Homo sapiens: one gene and its partners. The protein of the gene in region 7 purifies or fractionates together with the protein of the main gene of each other region. This does not show direct contact. Each region holds a gene or a part of one and is shown on either strand. Other genes may lie near its edges.

Region 1 (3,354 bases), on a different chromosome or scaffold from region 7:
ATAGGAGGGAAGGAAGGAAGGATGGGCCTGTGGGAAGGTATGACTGCTGCTTTGGGATGTAGAAGGGAAAGCTTGGTATGAAGTTGCTTTTGTTTTAGAAGTGTAATATGAGGCCAGGTTATCTGCTGAGAGCAGAGGAGGGTGGAGGATAAGGGGGCAGAGGAGGAGGCTGAATGTGTGTCTTGAGGCTTTGAAGAGAGAAGAGGAAAAGTAAAATAGTAACAGTCATTTTGGAGACTAGGGACATAAAAATGGAAGGATTGTAGAGAAGTAACTAAAATGGTCAGGCAGACTTGAGGGCTCATTTGAGATTTATGGTTATGAATTTAAAGTGAGACCTGTCAGCATGCTTGTGAATTTTTCTCCAGCAATATCTGACTATTTAAGTGAGGTAAGTGACGATATAAGAGATATTAAGAGCACCAAATCATATTTTTTCAAATATCTGTATTCTTTTCTTCAGAGACACTATAGGAGTCTAAATAAAAACAGACAAGGCATGTGTTGCAAAGCCTTTAATTAGAATGTTTGTATTTTTTACATCATGCATAACTTCACATTTGTGATTAATTAGTAATTATTTCAATACTTGTAAGCTCATCTGCCTCAGATTTAATCATAATACATGAATTAAATTAATCAAATTAAGGAACAGCAATTTAGAAAGAAACACACTTTAAGAAATCAAAATTCTCAATTCAGGCAGTCTGTTTCTATCATTTGGTATTCTACTCCTTTAAAAATTTCATATTGCCCAACAAAAAGTGGTTATTTTTACTGTTTTTGGAGATGACTGAACAGATGAAGGCATCAGATGCCTTCATCAGCTGGTATTTTGCCTAAGATCTATTTAAGATAACCTTTTCTTATATTTTTTACTTAATATTGGGCATAATCGTATCATTCAAGATTAAGTCTGGGTTATTTCTTTGATAAGAACTGAATGTGGCCGGGCGCAGTGGCTCACGCCTGTAATCCCAGCACTTTGGGAGGCCGAGGTGGGTGGATCACAAGGTCAGGAGATCGAGACCATCCTGGCTAACACGGTGAAACCCTGTCTCTACTAAAAATACAAAAAATTAGCCGGGCGTGGTGGCGGGCGCCCGTAATCCCAGCTACTCGGGAGGCTGAGGCAGGAGAATGGCGTGAACCCGGGAGGTGGAGGTTGCAGTGAGCCGAGATTGCGCCACTGCACTCCAGCCTGGGCGACAGAGCGAGACTGTCTCAAAAAAAAAAAGAACGGAATGTACTGGAGATGTATTTGATAACCAAGGTTTTAGGTAAATTTTCACCAGTATTAGTTCTATTTGCAAACTGAAAAATGTTGTAGGCTTAATGTAAAATAACCACATTAGTGAACATTATATCTCTTAGAAGAAAGGCCATATTTTGCTCCTGCTTCTGTAAAAATATTATTTGTTTGAAGGGGAAATAATGGTAGTGTGACCTTTCACTTAATTCCTACTCCCTTAATGTGAGAGAGACAAAATGAGCTGAAGAAGGAAAATTCTGGAGTTACACTCCACAACCTTGAACATACTGACGGACATCTCTGTTTTGACAACGATTTCTCCATGCCACCCTGTAGAAAAAGATGAAGCAAATGGTGAAAGGTTAAAACATATCTTCATTGTAATATACATACTTCGCACTCCTTGGGGAAACAAAATATTTTATCAATAGATAAAATAGTAAGATAGACCCAGCTATTGCTATTTATTAAATGAAGATATGTATACAAAATACTTCACTCCTACCCAAATTTCTCAGTAGAGCATAGAATGCCGAACATAAAGATTGAGTAATGTGCGTTGTACAGCAGCAACTGCAAAGTGAATTCCACATTTATTTTTTATGTATTTATTTGAGACAGAGTCTCACTCTGTCGCCCAGGCTGAAGTACAATGGCGCAATCCTCTGCAACCTCCACCTCCCGGGTTCAAGCAAGTCTCCTGCCTCAGCCTCCCGAGTGGCTGGGATTACAGGCACCTGCCACCACACCCAGCTAATTTTTTGTATTTTTAGTGGAGATGGGGTTTTGCCATGTTAGGCAGGCTGGTCTCGAACTCCTGACCTCAGGTGATCCATCTGCCTCGGTCTCCCAAAGTGCTGGGATTACAGGCGTGAGCCACTGTGCCCGGCCCACACTTACTTATTCTAAAAAGAATTTCAAGATATGACAAGGAACTGATAGAGTGTGAAGCATCTTAAAACTCTAGAAATCCCCTAAAATAAATTGAGGAGTAAAAGAGTAAGATTCTGGATCAGTTAAAGTAGATTGTTTCTTCAAGGATGTAGGTAATACATCATTTAGCATAAGCCAAAAGCTGCAATTTTGAGGTGTCATTAGCATACTTTGGTCTTTAAAAGTCTGCTCTCATTGTATATATCAACAGTAGAGTAAGATAGTTTTCCCTTTTAACACTTAAAACATACCATGCTCTAATGCCTTGTGGATCACGGACAACCCTCTTTGCACAAGCTACAGCATCAGCGATGTTATCTTGCAGCAAAGCTGAAAGACAGGTGGTAAGGAATAAAAACTTTAATAGATATTTTATTTTAAATTTAGGTTTAGCCAGCTTTTTTCTGTTAGGCTGTGGAAAGAATGGTAAGATATTATTTTCTATGAGTCCATATATGTGTAATTGTTGGGGAAAACTCTCTTCATTCTCTCCCATTCAGCATGAAATGAAGCATTTTTTTCTTCATTTACCAAAGTCATTGGAAGCTCTGGAAGTATTAACAAAATGATTAAAGGTCTTCTTTGCACTAGACACTGTAAAAAAACACCTAGTGATATTTTACTCAGCAGTTCTATTATTGAAAATTTATCCAAAAGAAATAAGAAATGCACCCAAAGATGTATACAAAAAGCTATTCATAGCAATTTATGAGGGAAAAATGGAAACAACCTAAGTGCTCAATAGTAACAATTGGATCAGTAAATTATAGAATATTCATATATTAAAATTCTAGTCATTCTTTTAAAATGATGATACAGATTTGTATTTTTTTCTCATCTGGAAAATGGAGCAAAAGATCATTAAAAACCGATTTGTATTTGCTGACATGCAAATAATTTTGTGTGATAAGAAGCAAATTGTAAAGCCGTGTGTATAATACAATTTAATTTTTGCAAAAGCACACAGTATTTACATGTTTGTATGTGGGTTTATATGTGTATGATATAATTTAACATTCATACACATGATTGATATACATTCTGGAAGAATATATACCAGAATTTACCCATGGTTATAAACCTCTGGGTAGTAAGATTATGGGTGTTATTTTTCTTATTTGTATTTTCTAATTTTTATTTAATGACCAAATATTATTATATAATATAAA
Region 2 (2,937 bases), on a different chromosome or scaffold from region 7:
TCAGGAACTTCCTTGTGGACACCAACCACAAGACGTGTCTACCAGAGGGGGGAGCGGGGGGAGGGCTTCCTGGAGGAAGCAGAGTACACGTCCATTGGCTTTGCTGAGGGCCACGGGAGCTGCAGGCCACTTCAGAACAGGGTCACGTGCCCTTCAGACGTGATCAGGCATGTTCACGATCTTGGTGTGAACGGGCTTGGTGTGACCATGGACACACATGCCCTTTAGGAAGATGGCTGTGGCGACGATGTGAAGGGTGCTGCAGGACGAGACTGAACAGGGAAAAACACCGAAGGATGAAAGCAAACAAGAAGGACGTGGTGAAGGTGGGTGTTCACACAGTGGGCCAAATGGAGGAGCAAGCTTCAGGGAGAAGACACCCAAAGGACTATTGTTACTTCCTGTCGCCGTAAACATCCTCATCCACGCTACCATTTATTTCCTGTCACCGTAAACATCCTCATCCACGCTACCATTTATTTCCTGTCACCGTAAACATCCTCATCCACGCTACCATTTATTTCCTGTCGCCGTAAACATCCTCATCCACGCTACCATTTATTTCCTGTCACCGTAAACATCCTCATCCATGCTACCATTTATTTCCTGTCACCGTAAACATCCTCATCCATGCTACCATCTATTGGGTACCTAGAGATGCCAATGCTGTACCAGCATTTTACATGGCTTAACCCAAATCCTCACAACAACCTAGCAAGATAAATATGACTTTCATTTTGCACAGAAGAGCAAGGCTTGGTGAGGTGAAGTTGCTGCCAAGCACGCACCAGAGCCAGGTCACCAGCACCCACAGCCCTGCCCCTGCACTGGCCAAGGCCATGCGTCTCCAGGTCCGCAGCTGGGGGTCTGTCCCCAGAAGAGGTCTGGGAAGCAGCAGCCTGTTCTCAGAACCAGAATTAGACAAGGGAGCCAAGAGAAACCACAGCAGTGAGAAGAGTGGCACGGACAGAGCCCCGGGCTGGACTCGGAGAAGAGGGGCTGGGAGGGAGGGGAGGGGAGGGGAGGGGAGGGCTCAAGAGGGCAGATCACAGAGGCCAGAGCAGCAGCGTGGGTGAAAGTCGGGCCCCCAGGCTGAGTCAGCAGGGTGGTGGGGTGGCTAGCACAGACCGCAGGGAAGCTGAGCGGACGGATGAGAGCTGTAGGGGCTAGAGCAAGAAAATCAGTTTCAGCAGTTTTTGTTTTTGTGTTGTTTCTGTTTTTTAGAGAGATTTCAAGATGTTTAGAAGCTGAAGAGAAATATCCAATAGAACAGAACAGAGGTTGGCAAACTTTTCCTGTGAAGGGTCAAATAGTAAATATTTCAGGTTTTGGGCCACATGGTCCCCACTGCAACTCAACTCTGTCATGTAGGACAAAGGCAGCTACAGACGACACATAAGCAAATGAGCACAGCTCCATTCCAATAAAACTTTATTTATAGAAACAAGAGGCAGGGGATGTTTGCACACACGTTTGTAGCAGCATCACGAACAACATAAAGATGGAAGCAAAAGGTAGAAGCAACACAAATGTCCACTGACAGATGAATAAGTACAGCATATCCAGAAAACGCAATCAAATTCAGCCTTGAAAAGGAAGATGCTGGCACAGGCCACAACATGGATGGACCTTGAGGACTTTATGCAAAGTGAAATAAGCCAGTCACCAAAAGGCAAATGCTGTACGATTCCACGTATAGGAGGTCCCTAGAGTAGTCAGATTCATAGAGAAAATAGCAGAATGGCAGCTGCCAGGGCCTGAGGAAGGGGAAGAGGGACCTAAGGCCACAGTCTGCCGACCCTGGAGTAGACGGAGATGAAGATGACAAGACAGAAGCCAGGGCCCTGAGGATGGGATTGAGAATAAGAACTCAGAAACCCTTTCATCCAGGGAGATGGGGAGAGGACGCAGGAGGGAGGAAGGAGCTCCTGAGAGGAGGCCTGCAGCCCCGCAGGCCCAGGAGCAGTACACCGCTCACAGCCAGAAAGGAGAGGCCAGGAGGCAGGGCAGAGCCCTGGCAGGGCAGGCGCTCAGGGAGAGGGTGGGAGCCACAGCTCTGGGAGGCAGGGCCAAGGTGGCCAAGCAGCACTGAGCTCTCGCCCAGGTTGGATCCCCCCTGCACCCTCCCCAAGCTTCACGGCCTGGGTACAGGAAGGGGTGACAAGCCATGCAGCAGGCATCATGGGTCAGTGGACAGGGGACAGGCAGTTCCCTCCAGCACGGAGGGCACGACAACCACTGCAGGGCAGGCAGAGCCCACCAGCGCCCACCAGGCTCTAGGGCAACCAAACTAGATCTGAAGGGAAACTCCACGGCCCTTCTTAGACCAACCCCCTTCGATATTTCACGCTGTTTGGTGGCTCTGAAGATGCATGGAGGTTCTAGCGGGGAAGAGCCCATTTTCACTTCCTCCATACTCTGCACACAGGGCATCCAGGCCCAGAAGAGCTCAACGCTGCCTGGCATGGAGAGGTTGGCGCAGGCTGAGGCTGCTGGGCTCTGAGGACTCAGGGTGTGCAGCCTGGAACCTGCACCTCCTAATGAAATATGGCCTAAGCAGACACCAGGATCCAGAGCCCAGCCACTCCTCTCCCCAATGCTGAGGCCCTCCCGAGAGCCCAAGGCACGGCATGGAGCTCGTGCGTGACTGCGAGCAAATGCCCTGGCCTCAGGCCACCAGGTCAGGTGCAGCAGGTCTGTGAGGGACCCCGTGTGCCTCTCCTGTGGGGGCAGCATCAGCTTCCCTCCTAGAGAACCACATGGAGCAGATATGGGCGGTGCAGCAGAGCACTGCAGCAGAGGGCCAGGAGGGTCCAAGCAGTGCTGTGATCATCCGACTCTCTAACCATGAACTCACCTAGAGATGCATTCCAACCACACCTCTCTAAAATACATGTAGGTGTTAGTGGAAAACACCTGCTATCTATTTCTGACTTA
Region 3 (3,500 bases), on a different chromosome or scaffold from region 7:
GTGGAAAAAACTGTAAGGCAAGTCAATTTTTTAATTAAAAAATTATGTAGCATAAACAATGCTAATGAGCCACAAGTCCCAAGAGATTAGTATTGTATCTGCTTCATTTTAATGTTTCATTCACTTTTCGTAAGTTACATCTACTCACTTGAAATATCTCAAGCAGAACCCTTTTTGTAAAATAGAGTTTTGAAGATATTCTTTGTCCTTGTTCTCAATAGGTCACCATTTTCTACTCAAGCTGTCGAGGACAAATCACACACACAAACACACACACACACTCACACACACACACACAGCCCTAAAATCTTTAAATGAATCACCAGAAAGTAAATACCTGGAAGTTCTTCATAAATTTCATCATCTATTGGTTGACTGCTTGTTAGTGGATTGCTTATTGGTAGAGGATGATCAACATCATCATATAATTCTCCTCTCTCATCATAATCCTCAGGAATAATATCAGATTCCATATCTATAAAACACATTTCATGAAGTAAATTTTAAAAGAATGCAGAAGATATTTTTAAAACTATACTTTATAAATAAATGCAGCCCTACAAAGCAACAACAATATTGTTATATGTTATGTCCTTAACTAAAAACATGTTTAAAAATTGTTTTGTAAATATGTGAATTTTAAAGTAAGCCAATTGGTACTTATAGAAAAGATGCTGTTTAAAATCTGAAGTGAGTGGTCTGTATTAATAACAGTCACATTCAAGTTGGTCATTCTCACAGAAGTCAATAAGCTTTTGTATATGAAAACCCAAACTACTCTGTTATTTAGTATTTAAAGACTGTGATAACTTGTTCGATTGATTTATCTTACCTTGCAATACAAATTTCAGCTGCTGTACCCATTCTTCAGCATCTTTGGGAGAAGCTGCTGTAAACTAATATAAAACAAACAGTAAGAACGAAAATCACCATAGTAGGAATGAAAGGTATGTTGTATTCTTACCATTTCTTTAAGACTATTAGTAATTCTTTTCATGTCTAGTGGAACTTTTCTTGCAAGGATGCTTCTTATAATGTACAGTTAATTTTGACAAATTTATGCAATTGAAGCAGAGGATGATGAATTTCAAACGCTGATCAGCAGCTGGCAGCTGTGCAGGAAAAAAAGCTGCTTCTCTTTCATCAATGTCAAAGACAGAACTGATGAACAAAATTTGCCCTTGACAATTAGAAGACACCCATGAATTTCTTTAGACTGCTGCACACAGTTTTCTTAAAAATGTTCTTGTCAGATTCCAACACACTACCTGACAACTTAATTAACTGGCTTTCAACTGCAATCTCAGATATTTAAAACTTATTAAACATACATTCCATATTGATGCCTAGCTGATAGCTATTGAATTGCAGAGCTGATGTGTACTTTTACCTTCATTTTCTCCCACACTCCTAAGCAATACAATATGTATTATCACTCTGATATTTTTGTTTTAATAATTTTACTCTTTCTGCTATGTAATTCTTTTGGAAGATCACCTAGTGCTATGCAACATGTGATCACCTATGTTCTATGCAACATGTGTGCAACATGTGAAGTAATTGATAAATTATATATTCTCTTTATCTTTTTCAAGAAGATAGTGTGTGAATTAATCTGAAATTTTTAAAAATTTCCTCTTATATGAATGTTCAATGCATAATATATTTAAACATCAGTATTTTTATTATTGTTAACATGTCAAGGAAAGTATTAATCAAATGTTAATGTCTCTATAAATGAAATCAAAACATTTTATCAACTTAATTTCAAGGCAACATAAAAACTACAACCTGATATATACGTTTATCAGGAGCAGAGATTTCAAAACAGCAATCTTTCTTTCCATCCTTTCTTAGAGTGTTATTCATTCTGACACTGTAGCCATCTATTGCAAATTCACCTTTCTGTTGTTTGTCTGTTGAAGATAAAACCAGTTAGAATTTCATTTACTAAGTATTAATGCTCAATTATCTTTTATGTAAAATTTCTTCATCAATTCTTGGAAATAACATTTTTTGGTCATATTGCTTTAGTAATATAATGCTTAGGTAATGTTTTTAGAAATCATTTTTAATTCTGAAACATGGAAGTATTAGGGATGATTGGACTTACAAGGAGGTCTGCAGATCATGGTCTTATTTGGAAGGAAGTATGGAAACATGACACTCTAGGGTAGGGAAAATTCAGGAACTAGAACATAGAACTTGCTAGACAAACCCACCACAAACCTTTGGCTCTTTCAGATTTAGTAGGCCAGTGGGAAGATCTGTCCAGCTGAAAACTTGTCGGGCTTTATCTACTGTTATCTCCTTTCACCTATCCCTCCCCAGCACCACCACCAAAAAGAAGCTTCTAAAACAAAAGTTTTCTTTAAAAAAGGTCTCCTAACTTGGTACAAATTTATCTCTAACCTTACAAAGCAAACCAAAACTAAACTAAACTACTCATGACGAAAAAGATGTGAAGGAAAAAAAAACTATGTGGATAAAGAAGAGTGGTAAAGCAAGTACAGAAGCATTAGTTACCAAAAATAGAGGGAAAGTTTCTTATCCAGTCAGTGAACAGTTAAACTAGTAAAGCACATTTGAATCTCACATGATAAAGAGGCAAAAGATGATTACAGCTTTGGTCAGATATTATTTTAAAGACAAGTAAAGTGCGAATATAACAAAGGACTTAATATTCTGAAACTGAAAATAAAATTAGTCAACCTTCCTACTTCACCCAGTTACACCATTTTGATAGAAAAACTATACAGCTATAGGTTTATTTCCTAGATTAACAAACAATATTAAAACCATGAGTAGGGACAAACTCTTTTACTGAGCTCGGGGCAAATACAGAAATGCTTTCGTGTTGTGGGGTGTGCTTTCTCAGTTCAGTGTACCAATAAAAGATACATCTCCTTTTCTTAAATACACAAGTTAAATGCCTAAAGTAACTAACATATGTTAGGTCATAGAGATTATATCTTGTTCAAAATATCAAATGAGAAAAAAAATCTCAGTTCCTGGGAAACTCTAATCACATTTAGTCATAATTTACATCTCTCTGAATGTCTAAAGAAACAATCAAAGTTTATTTCATGAAAAAATTCTACAATAAACTCTATGTTTTTCACAAAAACGATACAGTACTTTAAAGATTAGAGAAGCATTTCCCAAAGATATTAATAGGTTTCTGTGATCAAATCAATTTGGGAAACGTTTTGCCGAATTAAACAAGAGTTAAGCAGTTTTGTTAGTTCAGGCCTTCTTGGAGCCCTTAGTACATTTACATAGTAATTAAACTTCTATAAGAAAAATTTAGTATGCAGCATTTCCAAAAATTATTTGTCCGCGGAATCATTTTTCACAGAATATTTTATGGTACTCCCAGGATATATTTCGTAAGACACCTAACTAGGAAACTATTGGGAAAAAAGTATTAAAATGATAAATGGTTAAGCATGGTTGGTTCTTGTAAATTCTCAAAAAAAGACTAAATCATTCACTCACTC
Region 4 (3,947 bases), on a different chromosome or scaffold from region 7:
CTGTGCCCATATGTCCTTGTCCCTAAGGCCATCATCATCCTGGTTGCTTTAGATGCAAACCAAAGACAGGAAAGTGCATCAAGGCCTTGGTTCTGGTTTGCCAGGTGGGGTGGGGTGAGGCTCCAAAGTCTCCCCCTAGCTATTAACAACCTGCTCTTCAAAATTTCATTTCTGATGTGATCAGTCTGCTAATATTTTTGAGTAACTGCTTCGTGCAAGCCCAGAGCTATGCTTCTAATGAATGTCTATGAATGGATGATTACATTTCAGATAGACGTGGGAAATATTTACTGTATCAAATTTAAGAGGCGGCAGAAAGCAGCAATTATTTTCATTTTGAAATATTCCAAGGCTCTGCTCCTGTCTGAGTTGTCCTTTTAGAGCCCTTTTACCTTGTCTTTAAGTTAGAATTAATTAAAACCAAGGTTTTAATCTAAAGAGCCAGGACTTGCCAACTCCCATGACCATCTCTGGTTCTTTCACCTTTTTTTCTGCCTGCACAGCTGCCATCTGTCCCGGCAGGCCTGGGTTTAGCTGCTGCCTCCTCAAATTCCCCAGGCAAGGCCTCTGCAGGCAAACCAGGTTTCACTCTCCTGCTATGTCCCCTCTCCACCCGGCTCAGCACACCGTACCACAATCACATCGGCAAACTCTTGCTCCAAGAGTCTTTTCAGCTCCCCTCGGGTGAGCGCTGTGCAGTTGCCCTCCGTCCTTGCATAGCGCCTGAAGGCCTCGATGATCCCATTAATGTTTTGCAGTAACTGAGGCATCTTTGAAGTCAACCTGGAAAAGATGAAAAGTTCCCTTGGAGGCTCCATAATCAACCTCAGCTATTTCCTTTATAGCACGTCTGCTGCTAGGTCTTTCCTTGCACGTTCAGCTCTGTTTTTAGTTTTCCTTTGTCCTTTCCTACATAATGCATCTTATGTATGGGAAGGAGGAGCACACAGGATGGAGGCAGGTTCCTGAGTCAGGATTAAATGCTGGCCCCACCACTTAAGTATGGTGTGAGCTGGGACAAGTTGCTTTGCCTCTCCATGCCTCAGTTTACTACTCATTGTAATTGAAGGTGATATTAGTACTCTGTGGGATTATTGTGAAGATTTAAAGACATAATTCATAAAAAGCACTTGGCAGATGCCTGGCTTATATTAAGTGCTCCTTATTAAATATAATTATTATGCTATTATATACATATACACACATATAATTTTTGTACACCTATATAATCACTTTCCTGTACATCATCTCTTCTAATCCTTATTATTTCCACTTTTTTTTATAGGTGAGGAAACAGGCTCAGAGAAGTTAGGCCACACAATTTTTAAGGAGCCAAGAAATCCTAGGATCCATTTTTCCTTAACCCAAATGCAATGGGCTTTCTAGAATGTACCCTGTGGACAGGATTTATTTATTTATCACAAGGGTGTTAGGGTCCCATCGGGAACACCAAAAGGAAGTAAATACATCTGTGAGTCAACCCCTGTCTTGGATGGGAGCCAAGCAGAAATTCCAGGGACACAGCCCTCCCTTCTTGTTTTTTTTGGGAAAGTGGGAAGAAACTGGGCTACCACCTGCTGGGAATGCTCAGGAGGGGGGAACCTTCTTTGGGTGGGAGGCCTTCCAGTTCTGAGGGTCCAAGTTTCTCTGCATGTCGCCTCTGTCCACAGCCCTGAGACTTATCAGAGAAGTCAGCTTGCCCAACAGGCACGTGGCTCCATCAGGCCCAGATTTCTGGTGACCTATGAGTTGGTTCCTAATCAAAGGGAAAGCTTTTCTTTTTCATTAGCCAGAAATCTAGAGGTAGGTTGAGGTGAGGCCTGGGTTTGGTTGCATGAGCAAAAGGAAAAGAGACTTGAAGATTCATTAAGCAGAAGCCTTGGAGAGACCCAAAGGAGGAGATGGTATCAAAGATGACAAGTCTCAAATGCAAGGGGAGATGGAGCCTGTAGCAGCTGGAAAGCCAGAGAGAGGATGGGACGAGGCAGATATAGGTAGGAGAAGAAAGAGAAAAAAGGAAGGAAGGAGACTTGAGTTCTAGAAAAAGCAGATTAGTGTGGCCATGAGGACTCAGTAAGTCATAGCAAAAGGTGGGCTGTTCAGGAGAAACCCTTTCTAGGACCTGGTAACCAACAATTTCAGGCAAACTTTTCATCAAGGTAAAAAACTGGGGATGTTTTCCTCAACATAGATGAAAAATATCTTTCTTTTTTTTTAAAACCATGTAGCAGACTTTAACCACTGACCTTTAGATAATAAAATAATAAGATGACCTTTTAGTTACATTTTAGATTCCTTAGAAAAATCTACACATATTTTGCCTAAATATCACCCTGGTGTAGGAGAGGGGAATCATGTAAACCCCTTCATCCATGACACAGTTTGATCTTATTGTCTAGGTTGGCATAAGTAAACTGATTCTGATCCCATAGACTCTCAGCACTGCAAAGAAGCTTCCAGAGCCTTAGAAAAAAGAAACCTTTGCTGATCCAGGAAGGCACATGGGTGGCCCCATAGCCGCTGCCCACACAGTTTCCCAGTGAGAGGAGCTGCTCCCAGGCCAGCCTCAGGGAGGAGGAGAAAGCCTGATTGCTTCAGGAGAGCATGTTTCCCAACGGTAGCGTTGGTTTGCCCAGTGCTCACAGCTAGCTCTGAAGGATGCATAGTCCATACCTGACTGCCCCAGTTTTATGAGCTCAGATCACCAAGACACTGAGAATGAGAAAGAGGTTTCTTATGAGGGGACTTACCTAATGCCCAGGTGGGATGAAACAAGTGGCTGTTAAGTGGTGTGAGGAGTACCAGGTCAGTGTGATGAGAACCTTTTATAGGGGTTTTAACCAAGGCTCTTGTTTTAGACAGGATATCCTGCCCTATGGGAAGGCTTGATTCATCCAAGATCCAGCCCAGCCCAGCCACACCTCCTCTTGTCTCTGTTTTACCTGCTGATGTGTGACTGCCTTGGTCTAATTAACAGGCCCCTCCTACCACATTTGGTACCTTCTGTAGCTGAGTCCTCTTGACAGGGAAGCTTCTTTCCATTGTGATGGGCTCAGCAGTGCTTGGTACAGGCTGGGGTCCTGGTGAACATTCTTTGTCTCTATGAGCCTACAAAGTTATGGGACTCTTTCCTTTTTTTTTTTTTTTTTTTTTTGAGATGGAGTCCTGCTCTGTCGCCCAGGCTGGAGTGCAGTGGTGCGATCTTGGCTCACTGCAACCTCCGCCTCCTGGGTTCAAGCAATTCCCTGCCTCAGACTCCTGAGTAGCTGGGATTACAGGTGCCTGCCACCATGCCCAGTTAATTTTTGTATTTTTAGTAGAGACAGGGTTTCACCATGTTGAACAGGCTGATCTTGAACTCCTGACCTCATGATTCACCTGCCTCTGCCTCCCAAAGTGCTGGGATTATAGGTGTGAGCCACCGTGCCTGGCCACTGTTTCCTTTTTTAATATAAATGTTCAAGAATATATCTATTGAGGTTAACTTTTACAAAGTAGCCACTCTGAGAGGGCACACATGTTTTTGTGGTGATGTTACTTAGAACTGTTATTACTTAGAACATTTTTTGAATTCTTGTTTTGTAAGTGCCTTTCACACCTAGTGTATGAGACACAAGAAAGCCAGTTTCATCTCTTTAAAGTTGGTCTCATTTTTAATTAAAACAAAAAAAGTTAATACCTTCCCCACCCCATGCTATGGGTAGGTAGCATTTTGTAGCTGATGAGAAAAAAGGCTTACCATGATCATGTGGTAACTCCTCATTGCAAGGACAGGAAACTCAACTGGTGGCTAATCAGCAAATATTTATGGAAAGCTTGCTCCATTTCAGGCAGAGGGCTAAGGCCCTAGGAATACAGTGTTGAATACGATGGCAGCAGTTTCAACTCTCATGAAGTCTATAGCCTGGCCATCCCAGGGGTAAGTCCCCAAGAGGTTAATGATAATG
Region 5 (3,937 bases), on a different chromosome or scaffold from region 7:
GGGAAACCCCATCACTGAGCCTCAATCTCTTCTCTACCTCTGAGCCACACCATCTCAACCAGAATAGACTCATTCACTCCCTTCACCCTGCCTGTCAATCACTTTCTCCCCTCCCATTCCTGGGTCTGCTTATGCTTTGCCTACTAAACCCCTCTACTTTCTGGCAGCTTCCATGGATGATCCCCCTGCTTATACAGATCTTTCATCTCTCTCCAAGTAGTTTGTCTCTTGGCTCATGAATCAGCAACCAAAGATATGCATGGTCTGGGATCTGAGCATTCCAAATCCTGGGCCTGTTGTTGGGGGAAGATATATCATGATTTTTTTCTTGTAGTTGCAATCATCCCCCTTCTAATCCATCCTCATTAGGCACACTCAATACATATCTGAGCCTTGAGTATCATTTCTCTAGCCACTTTCATATGAATCAGGACAAGCGCAAGTTGGAAAGGTAAAGGTCTTCTGGAAAACTCTACAAAGAAAGCAAGTCCTTCCGGAACAATCATTAACTGCTCTGCACTGCTTGGCTTTGAGAGGGTTGTGGCTGAGGTCCAGGTTTTATTTACTCCTCCAAAGGGTTCTGAGAGAACCCAGACATCCATGATATCAGACAAAACAGAGGCAGGCCAACTTAATTATAGTCTGCATCCTATTATAATTTAAGCCTGAATATGCCCAGGAGAAGTAGGCAGCCCTGGAGGAGTTCTGAGAAGAAAGAAGTCACCATGGGTGGGCAAGAGCCAGGCAGAAAGGCACCAAGGAAAAGGAAGGCCCAGAACTGAGGTTTGAGAAGGAAGAAGATTTGGACAGGTGTAGGCTGAGTGGGTTTGGGTGTGGGGAAGGGAGTTACATAGAGCAGATACATTAGGTGCCTGCTGGCCTGAGACAAGGCAGAGGGCAGGTCCAGCCCTGGGCTAGAGATGCCCAGCTGCAAGTAGAGGTTTGTGTTGGGGCCTAATCAAGGTGGGAGGAGGTGACTGTAGTGTGATATCTGTGGTCCTGGCTCCTGTCATAAAGGTCCAGAGCTAGCCTTCCCCCAAGTGAGGAATTTACTGGGTCTCGTTGCCCCTCCTCAAAGTGCCCAAGCTTTGCCTGGGCCCTGCAGCCCACAGGGCTCTCCACACCAGAGGTTAATCAAAGGTCCAAGAGCTTACCAAGCCCCCAGTGGCTTCCTCTGTCCTATTCCTCAAAAAGGCCTAGAGAGCCCACTGCCAGAGGTGCACCATGGTGCAGTGACTGTGCAGTGGGTGGTGCCGAATGAGGGGAGCCACACTGGGGGAGGGGGCTCTGCTGGAATCCCGGTGGGGCAGGCAGTCCAACAGTGCAGTGCCCTCTGCCTTGCCCATGCCCACGCCGCTGCAGCAGGCAGGCAGAGCCGCAGAGGAAGATGTTTGTGTGTGGAACAAGGCTCGCCTTGACCCCGCGGCCCTTGCCGAAAGCAGCCTGGCCAAACGGAGACCAGCTCTGCGGGGCCAGTCCAGCTGCCGCCTAGGCGCTTGGGCTGTGACGCATGTAGCGGGCACAGCCCCTCACCACCGGGGGAGCCAAGCAAAGTCCAGCGTTCGGGCGGTCACCAGTGTCAGAAGTGTCTCCAGCAGACAATGACAGGGGCCTGGCGGGCTGGGTATGTTAAGTAACTGCGAAGTTGGAGGGTTTGGCCACCTCGCTAGCTCTCCTGTACACAGAGATGGTATGATACGTTCCGTACTACAATGAGGGCTCCTTCGGCCTCTGGCAAGGAAATGCCCCCCAAACACCGTGCCTATTGCTATTTTTAAACGGGAGGCTGGAGAGGAAAACGCGGCCAGTATCCTCCAAGGGAAAAGGAGGTGAGGCGAGGCGAGGCGGGAGACAAAGCGGCCTTGCAGCTCTAACTCAAGGACTAGCTTGCGCCGCTGCTCTAACCCAAGGACCAGCAAGAGCCCGGCTGCCAGCCAGCCTGCCCGACCGCGGGGGCGGGCGCCAGATGCGCCCGGAGGCCCAGGAGGAGGGGCGCGGCTAGTTGGGGCCACAAGGCCAAGGTTCTGAAGGGAAGTGTGCGACTGAGCTCAGCCCACAGGCCCAACTGAGCTCCTCTGGGGAGGGGGCAGTCTGTGGATGTCCCAATCCACGCCAAAGCCGGTCTCCGTCGGGCCCAAGCCAGCACGCCAGCTTGAGTCCGCAGAAAGGAGGGAGAGGCTGGAGATGCACAGGGGAGGGGAGGGGCGGCAGCCAGGCAGCCGGAGAGAGGGGTGAGCGGTACCCGCGTTACACAGCTGTTCCAGCAAATGTGCTACAACAAAGCTGCAGAGCTCCTGGCCTACAAATGCATGGCTTGGGGTGCTGGCTGGCGGCGCCCTTCCCGGGACTGTGCGGCAGCACGTGCGGGCCCATCCCCGCCCCCCCGAAAGCCGGGAGGCTTGGCCCAGGCTAGCCTGCCTTCCTACCCGCCCTCCCCAACCCCCCTCCCCCCAGCCGTGGTCGCTTGTGCCCAGGGGACTCAAGGCCGCTCTGCCTCTCCACCCGACAGTCCGCAAAGCGGGTTCCAAAGGAGAGGGGCGAGCGACCGGGACTCCGACCCGCCTAGTCCTTAGTGCCCTCCTCCAGTCCGTAGGAGCAGAGCACGCGGGAATGCACCCGACCGCGGGCAGGCGGAGGCTCCTGGCTGTACGCAACGCTTACCCAGCCCGGTCAGGTTCCTAGCCCGGTTATTGTCCGCTGAGCCGCCCTGGGCCGGGCTGCAGCCTCGGCTGCCACGGCTGAGAGCGCCGCCACCGCAGCTGCTGCCGCCGTCGCCGCGGCTCCAGTCACCTCCAGCACTGACTCCCCTTCCCCAGGCTTTGGGTAGCTCCCCCATACCCCCTCCCCCAGTACTCCAAGGCCACCGGGTGGGGCATCTGCGTCCTGATTGGCAGGCATATGGCCCAATCGCTATGGTGGGAAGGCGTGCCCCGGCCCGCCCACTGTTTTCCTTGGTGCGTTTCTCTTTAAATGCAAATAAGTGCAGGCGTGGTGTTGGCAGGGGGCGGAGAGGGTGCGGAACCACTGGCTGGGGCTCCCCACTCCCGCCCCCACGCCGGGCTGGTAGTGGCGTGGCTACACCGTGGCCTCAAGGAGCCAGTCCTGCCCGGATGGGGCTCGCCGGATCGGTTTCGGTTTTCACGCACTCCCATTTCTGTGGCCGCTGTGCATTCGCGGTACTGTGCCCTGGCCGCCACCAGGACGTTTATTCCTGAGCTAGAGGCCGGCGGGGAGTAACGAGGCAGAGAGGTTGAGGAATCTGGGAAGACTGCAGAAACCTAAGGGCCGGCCTATCCTTAGTCGTAGAGACAAGGCCCTGCGGATCGCGCCGCCAGGCCACCCAGAGGAGGGACTCACCTGCCAGGAAAGCTAGCTGCAGCGCCTGCGCCCTAACTTCGTCCGCCTCTCTGGCACACCAGTGCCCTTAGAGACCATAGAGGCCAACTTCCACCCGTTACCGACGGGCCCTCTGCTGCCCAGAGTGGGGAAAGTCCCTCCCCACAGTTACCCAGCCTGCCGGCGACAAGGGCCAATTTGGAATCCAGAGCCCCGGGCTCCCTTTCCAGGATTGCTTTCACTTTTCTTCTCTGAGATGATACCTGTTTCCATAGTTTGACCCTCACCCAAATTTCGCACCTTCTATGGAATGTGGAGGGAATCCCCAAGGTCTCCAGAGTCCCCCTTCCCCCATCCTTTGTGAGCCTGGCTTTCGGCAGGCCTTTTTCCTTGAAAAGTCTAAATATTGAGAGGAAAATCTTGTCTGGGCCCAAACCGGAGGTCAGGCTGAGGACAAAGTGAGGAGGCCTGTACCAGCCTTGTCTGCTACTGTGTGTGGGATGTGGCAGGGAGCCCGGCGAACTTGGGTCTCTAGCCTAAGGACATTAAGTGGCATCAGTGGCTGCCAGGGCCAGGTGAGCTGAGGCAGCAAAGAATCTAG
Region 6 (2,881 bases), on a different chromosome or scaffold from region 7:
TTTCTCTCTTCATTATTTAAAATTATTCTGTCTTCACTTCTCTCTCCTTTTCTCTGCTTCCTACTTAGCTCTTTAGAAATGCAATTATAATCTTTTATCTCCCCTTCACCAGACACTCCCAACAGGGCAAGTTCATCTAACTATGTGCTCTTAGTTAGACGCTACAGAGCAGAACTCTCTCCCACCAAGAGACTACCTTGAGACATAACAGTCAATTCACAAGCCAAAATATGCCCGCTATGAAACTCTCCCATCTGGAAATTTTTTGGCTGCTTTTACAACCTAGTTTTGCCCACAAAGGCACCAGCAGTAACCAACTCAACTGCCTGGTAGACAAGGCACCAAAGCCAGTACCCAGACCCTCTACCTGCTCACTTCCTGCCTTGCATGCCACGCCCCCCATTTAAAAGCCTCTGCTTTCTGCTCCAAAGGTGAAGCAGTTACCCTTAAGGAAAGAAGCCTGTACTTCTTCCCCTAAGGTAGCTTTGGAATAAAAGTCACTTTATACCAAACCTAGCTCTTGTTAATTAGACTCTGCAAGTGATGAGCAACTGAACCTACATTTCAGTTATAATTCCTATGCTTGCTCTTCCTGCCCTGCCTTGGGGACACGCACACACTCCCAGGCACATACATGCACGTGCACTGAGACAGCTATGTGAATAACCAACAAGATCCCCTTAGGAAAACCGGTGCTTGGCCTGGCCTTAAATTCCAGACCCTTGGGCATCATACCCAAGACTGCAAGAAAGAGGAGGGGCTGGACCTGAAAAACTTGGAAGGGAAGGTCCAACTGTACAGGTATTTTGTCAGGCATGTGATTTCAGTATAAAATTCTAGAAAAGATGAGTGACACTTTATAAGGAGAGAATATCAACAAAATTTCTCATTTTACTTCTTGCTAAGACGACAGCAGGGAATTGTAAGCAGATGGATGGGCAATCCCCACCTTCAGCAGGGGAGGCCAAGGCCCCAACACACCTGGGGAGAAGAGCTGGGGGCAGTGAATGGCTGAGGCTTTCTTGGGGAGCTGGGCCATCTTCTTCGGTTTTACTTCCTGAGGAATTCACAGGCTTCCAGGAGGGCTGTGGGACACAACAGAGCAAGAGATTCAGAAACTGATTTCTTCCATTAAACCAGTTATTTAATCCAATAAATCAAAGAGAATACTAAGAGTTTTCTCTGCCCTTCTCCCATCACTGAGTCAGTGCTTGCCACACTCATATTCCCACTCCCCTACTCCTAGCGACTACGGTGTTCAAGGGAGCCAGAGTCTAGCCCTCACCAGCCAGGGTGTTTCCCTGCTCTGGCCTGAGAGACACAACCACCCTGCACTTGTCTCTGATTGAATCGACTGTCACATTCTCAAGTTCACAAGACATTGGTGGTCCTCTAGCTTCTCCCGGAATGTGAACCTGTTTGCAATCATGTTCACCTGCAGATTCACTCATTCATTCACAGATCCTTACTGAGCACCTGCTTTGTGTGAGTTGCTGTGCTAAGTGCTGGGGACACAGCATGGATAGACTGGCCTGCCCTCAAGAAGCATGTGGTCTATGCAGTCCTGAGCTGGCTGCTCACAAGAAGAGCCCTGTAGCCATATTTCTCAGAGGGTGGTCCTGACCTGCATCACAGTGACCTGAGTTGTTTGTCAATACAGAAAAGGGTTTCTCAACCTTGGCACTATTGACATTTGGGGCCTGATAATAACCCTTTATTGCAGGGGGCTGGCTGTGCTTTGTTTAGTAGCATCCCTGGCCTCTACCTATTTGTTACCAGCAGCACCCTCTATGTTGTAAGAATCAAAAAAATGCTTCTCACATTGTCAAATATCCCCTCAGGGGAAAAATTGTCTCTCATTGAAAACTACCGATAAAGACATTTCTGGCCCTGCCCCCATCCTTGGACCAACAGCATCCCTAATGCCCCCAACTCTGGGTGAGGGACCAGGAATAGGAATCTGAATGATTGCAGTGCACAGGGAGCTGTGCACACTGAAATCCCACAGTTATCACCGGGAGCCTTACAATACTCTGTGATGTCTTCTAAATATTTTTAAGGGATTAAATTAATATCAACATATTTCCCTGGTTAAGATGTGTTTTCCTACACTTGAATTTTTTTGAGATTTTGTTTTCTCTATAGTTGGCATCTATGGTAACTGTCTAGAATCAGATTTTTTTTTTTTTTTTTTGAGGAAGGGTCTTTCGGTGTCACCTAGGCTGTAGTGCAGTGGTACAATCATAGCTCACTGCAGCTTCAACCTTCTGGGATCAAGCAATCCTCCTATTTCAGCCTCTCAAGTAGCTGGGACTAGAGGTGCTTGACACCACACCAGGCTAATTTTTAAAATTATTTTTGTAGAACAAGGTCTCTCTGTGTTGGCCACATTGGTCTCAAACTCCCGGGCTCAAGCCATCCTCCCACCTCTGCTTCCCAAGGTGGTGGGATGACAGGTGTGAGCCATCACACGTGGCTGGTTTTGTCATTTCTCAATGCATATGTATATATGCACCTTTCATTTTACTGAATAAAATGGATTATCAGTTTCCAAAGATTTCATGACAGTGCCATCACTATCCGTACTATAAAATTTATAAAAATTTATTACATACTGCTCTATTTTATTCTCTAATTATTTTATCAATGAGATTATAATTTCCTGAACTGTAAAGAGATATTATCTTTCCTTAACATTTTTACACCTGTGTTCGTTCCTAGAATGCTGTTTGGCCCTCAAACCTTGACCTTCACCCATGGTGGTTTCTCGGGGATGCTAGCTAGGGTCTACTTACGGGAGGTTGAGCACTTTTTCAGATTAGTAATGCCTGCGACATACTGTGGTCCCAAATATTTTTCATATGTTGTTTTGCCATGGAGT
Region 7 (3,500 bases):
AGGGGTGGGCTGGCCCGGCCTTTGCTGCCCCTGGGGTCTATGGCGTGTGGCGAAGGTGACTGGCAGGGGAAGCCTGGACATGGGGAGTGTGCATGTATGGATGTGTGCATGTGTGTGTGTGCATGCGTGTGCATCTGTGTGCAGATGTGTGCGTGTGTGCATGTATGTGTGTGCATGCATGTGGATGTGTGCATGTGTGCATGTAGGTCTTGGCTCAGACCCTGCTTCATGGTGGACACCACCTGCTGTGTCTCCCCAACACTGGTGTGTACCTTCCCTCATGGTCCATGGGACTGGGCTCTTGCTTCCAAGTTTCTTCAAAGGAAGAAGATAGTCATTGCCCCGGAGCGGGGCAAATCAATCATCTTGTACTAATGGGAATGGCTTTGGGAAGTGCCCACATGCTCACATCTGAGCCAGCACTAGGCGCACCTCCCCTGCCGCACAGGAATTGTGGGCAGTCTTGCCCTCGGCAGCACTGGGGCTTGTGGCCATCTACAGAACGCAGCCTTCTGTGGCCGATGCCCCTGAGTGAGTTACAGCCGGCATCTCACCAGCCCCCCAGGCAGGCTGGTCCTGGTTCAAGCAGGAGGCATCTGCTCGGGTTCTTTATTACACGTGCCTGGGGCACACACACGATTCCCTTTCACAGAAAGGAGAGGGTCCCCCTGGATGGACCCGTCAAAGAGGCGGCCTCAATGCACGCAGCCCTGCACCAGGCCATGGGGCTCAAGCTCATGCTTGTCTCCAGTGAGCTGGAGGGTGGTGTGGCGTGGTCTTCACCACACACAGACAGTGAAGGGGGCAGTGGTGTTCAGGGCACAGGGCTGAACGATTGTGGCCTCTCAGTGCTCTGGGATGGGCCTGAGACTAGCAGGGATGCACGGGCCATTCCTCTAAATGCAGAGGACAGCAGGTTTGCACGTGTGCAGGAGTGTTGTGCAGGGGGAGGAGCCCTGGGGAGACCCTACCCTGGTGGCCTTCCAGAGCCCACAGAACCGAGGTCGCACTACCCGTGGAGCCCACCGGATCAGAGCAGGTGCCATGCACAGCTAGTCCCCCACTCTCCGTCTGTCACCAAAGCTTCGCCCCTCCGCCAGCTGGGCTGCACCAGCCCAACCCCAGCCAGGGCAATGGCTTAAGGAAGCCACCTGTGAGCAGAGTGGGTCCTGAGGCCTCATGGCTGAGATGGGAGCAGAGTCGGCTTCAGCTCCGGGGCAGTGGGGTCTTTGGAAGCCCTGGCTTGGAAGGGAAAGCACAGCCATTGACTGTGGATGGTGGAGGAGGGTCTCTGGCTGGATCTCAGGTGACAGAGCTGGGCTTGCACCACAAGAGGGGCCTCTGTCTGGCAGGCCCAGCGCTTGCAAACAGGAGTTGCAGAGAGGGGTTCAGGTCTGGGAGGAACCTGGGTCCTGCACAGTGATGACTGTGAACTCCGGCTTGGGAGCTCTGGCAGCCTGTGCCCATCAGGACTGTCTCTTGGGGAGCTGACAGTGTGGGAAACTGCAGAGCTGTCTCTCCAGGGTCTGGGCCCAGCTGTGTCACCTTCTCTCCCAGATTAGGATGGGTGACAGGCTGCCTCAGGGGCCAACACCATGGCTCTCTGGACACTTGACAGCCAGACCTTGAACTGGCTCCCTGAGACCCTGAGGGAAAGAGCTCCCGGGTGTATGGCAGACAGGCATGAGGTGCGGGACCTGTTTGTTACCTCCCAGGTTGATGTCAGAGCCAGCTCCACACCTCTTACAGGTGAACCTGTGGAGCGTGCTGGCTGCGGAAGTGCAGGCAGCATCTGGCGGGCAGGAAGGGACGAGGGCCATGTGGAAGTGGGGTGGGCAGGGGCTGAGCCTGGCGGTGCGGACGGTACTGCTGGGTGGGTGGTGCCTACACCACAAACTCCTGTGGTGGAGCCTCTCCGAACAGGTCCAGGGCGAGACAGTTGCTGGACCTCTTGCTGGGGAGAGTGGCCCTGGTCTCGCAGGGGCCTGCCAGCCTGCAGTCCAGGGCGCGGTGGAAGGTATGGCTGAGTGAGGTGGGCGCTGGGTGCAGGGCCAGCTGGTGCAGCTGCATGTCGTCCAGGCCATGGCTGTGCTGCTCCTCACTGACCCCGGCTGTCATTTCCTGGATCTGCGGGGAGAGGCCATGGGATGAGGCCTGCTGCCCCCTCTCACTCCCACCACCGCACACGGCAGCCACACTGCTTGTGGCCACAGAGCCACACTCCCTGCCAATGCCCACCCTGCGCCGCAGTGCATGGCCGGCCTGCCCCTGGACGGGTCCCCCAGCACACACCTCTGCGAGAGAGGCTTGGCATCTTCCTTTGATGCATTTCAGGAGGCCCCCACCTTGCCCAGCTTCTTTCCTGGGGCTGCTTTCTGCCTTTTAACTCAGTGGACCTGGACTCTTAGCGTTTGGTGTAATTTAGGATCAGGTCTGAGTGTGGGCCTTGAACACTAGCTCTGGAAGCACCTCAGTGGTCAAGAACGGCCTCCTATTTTATACGGGAGGAAACTGTCTGGGTTCAGAGGTGACTGTCCAAGGTCCCGTCCAGGTGGGCGGCCAGCGGGCAGCGTCATCGCCCTTAAGTGAAGCCTCCAGCCCGAGCTTCTCGGCTGCCGTGGCCCCTCAGATCTGCCTTGGACCACTGTGCTCCCAGGAGGCAGATGAGGCCCCTGGTGGCAGGTGGCAGGGGCAGGGGCAGGCCACGCCGAAGATTGCCCAGCGCCAGGGTCTGACTTGCCCTTCTACGCGTGTTTCCTTGTTTTTAATCAATACGTCTTTCAAGAGTGACAGTCCCTGGCCCAGAGCTCAGGCGGCTTCGGGCAGCCGTCTCCTCCACTGAGTGGGCTGACCTGGGTTTGGGATTGCCCCCACTGGGATGGGCCCGCGCCTGCCAGGACTTGCAGCCTCCCCTCCCTCCTCCCGTGCCCAGCCCTGTTCTCTCTCCATCCAGCCTCCGGTGCCCAGCCCTGTTCTCTCTCCATCCAGCCTCCCGTGCCCAGCCCTGTTCTCTCTCTCCATCCGCCTCCCGTGCCCAGCCCTGTTCTCTCTCCATCCAGCCTCCCGTGCCCAGCCCTGTTCTCTCTCTCCATGCAGCCTCTCGTGCCCAGCCCTGTTCTCTCTCTCCATGCAGCCTCTCGTGCCCAGCCCTGTTCTCTCTCTCCATCTGCCTCCCGTGCCCAGCCCTCTTCTCTCTCCATCCAGCCTCCCGTGCCCAGCCCTCTTCTCTCTCCATCCAGCATCACGATAACTAATCAGCCACAACCGATTTTCTGTGTCTTTCCAGGGGGATTCTGAACAGGGCTGACCAGAGGGGGCCTCACCCTCCTGTGGTGGAGCCGGGGGCGGGGGTTGGGGGGTGGGGAGGGCAACTCGGAGCCTGGCTGGGAACCCTGAGCCCACCTGTTCCCCACCTGGGCATCCAGGAACCACTGGCTCGCTTCTCCTCTAGCTCCTCTGGGGGATCCTAAGGCTCAGTAGCTCTACAGGAAGTGGGGGAA

The links.
Region 1: the proteins of FRMD1 (region 7) and LYZ purify together in Homo sapiens (affinity purification with mass spectrometry; 2 studies listed by BioGRID and IntAct, with this or other methods). This does not show direct contact.
Region 2: the proteins of FRMD1 (region 7) and PASK purify together in Homo sapiens (co-immunoprecipitation; 3 studies listed by BioGRID and IntAct, with this or other methods). This does not show direct contact.
Region 3: the proteins of FRMD1 (region 7) and SKAP2 purify together in Homo sapiens (affinity purification with mass spectrometry; 2 studies listed by BioGRID and IntAct, with this or other methods). This does not show direct contact.
Region 4: the proteins of FRMD1 (region 7) and CRNN purify together in Homo sapiens (affinity purification with mass spectrometry; 2 studies listed by BioGRID and IntAct, with this or other methods). This does not show direct contact.
Region 5: the proteins of FRMD1 (region 7) and AMER1 purify together in Homo sapiens (affinity purification with mass spectrometry; 2 studies listed by BioGRID and IntAct, with this or other methods). This does not show direct contact.
Region 6: the proteins of FRMD1 (region 7) and LTF purify together in Homo sapiens (affinity purification with mass spectrometry; 2 studies listed by BioGRID and IntAct, with this or other methods). This does not show direct contact.

What each region holds. Positions count from the first base shown.
Region 1 is NC_000012.12:69,351,381-69,354,734, reverse strand, and holds the end of LYZ (lysozyme C precursor), read right to left. Parts: intron 2,516-3,354; coding exon 2,437-2,515; intron 1,583-2,436; coding exon 1,516-1,582; 3' UTR 501-1,515; downstream 1-500. UniProt on the Homo sapiens protein: Lysozymes have primarily a bacteriolytic function; those in tissues and body fluids are associated with the monocyte-macrophage system and enhance the activity of immunoagents.
Region 2 is NC_000002.12:241,108,536-241,111,472, forward strand, and holds part of PASK (PAS domain-containing serine/threonine-protein kinase), read right to left. Parts: intron 364-2,937; coding exon of another isoform or gene 164-363; exon of another isoform or gene 1-163. UniProt on the Homo sapiens protein: Serine/threonine-protein kinase involved in energy homeostasis and protein translation. Phosphorylates EEF1A1, GYS1, PDX1 and RPS6.
Region 3 is NC_000007.14:26,725,091-26,728,590, forward strand, and holds part of SKAP2 (src kinase-associated phosphoprotein 2), read right to left. Parts: intron 1,917-3,500; coding exon 1,792-1,916; intron 897-1,791; coding exon 833-896; intron 476-832; coding exon 338-475; intron 1-337. UniProt on the Homo sapiens protein: May be involved in B-cell and macrophage adhesion processes. In B-cells, may act by coupling the B-cell receptor (BCR) to integrin activation. May play a role in src signaling pathway.
Region 4 is NC_000001.11:152,411,464-152,415,410, forward strand, and holds the start of CRNN (cornulin), read right to left. Parts: upstream 2,801-3,947; 5' UTR 2,751-2,800; intron 784-2,750; 5' UTR 771-783; coding exon 633-770; intron 1-632. UniProt on the Homo sapiens protein: Promotes cell proliferation, G1/S cell cycle progression and induces expression of the cell cycle regulator CCND1. Regulates proliferation induced by pro-inflammatory cytokine response via activation of NFKB1 and PI3K/AKT signaling pathways.
Region 5 is NC_000023.11:64,202,909-64,206,845, forward strand, and holds the start of AMER1 (APC membrane recruitment protein 1), read right to left. Parts: upstream 2,801-3,937; 5' UTR 2,662-2,800; intron 1-2,661. Other genes in the region: uncharacterized protein LOC112268307, read left to right, coding at 3,111-3,176. UniProt on the Homo sapiens protein: Regulator of the canonical Wnt signaling pathway.
Region 6 is NC_000003.12:46,435,145-46,438,025, forward strand, and holds the end of LTF (lactotransferrin isoform 1 preproprotein), read right to left. Parts: coding exon 2,796-2,881; intron 1,086-2,795; coding exon 1,051-1,085; 3' UTR 501-1,050; downstream 1-500. UniProt on the Homo sapiens protein: Transferrins are iron binding transport proteins which can bind two Fe(3+) ions in association with the binding of an anion, usually bicarbonate. Lactoferricin binds to the bacterial surface and is crucial for the bactericidal functions.
Region 7 is NC_000006.12:168,055,213-168,058,712, forward strand, and holds part of FRMD1 (FERM domain-containing protein 1), read right to left. Parts: intron 2,512-3,500; exon of another isoform or gene 2,293-2,511; intron 2,128-2,292; coding exon 1,885-2,127; 3' UTR 1-1,884.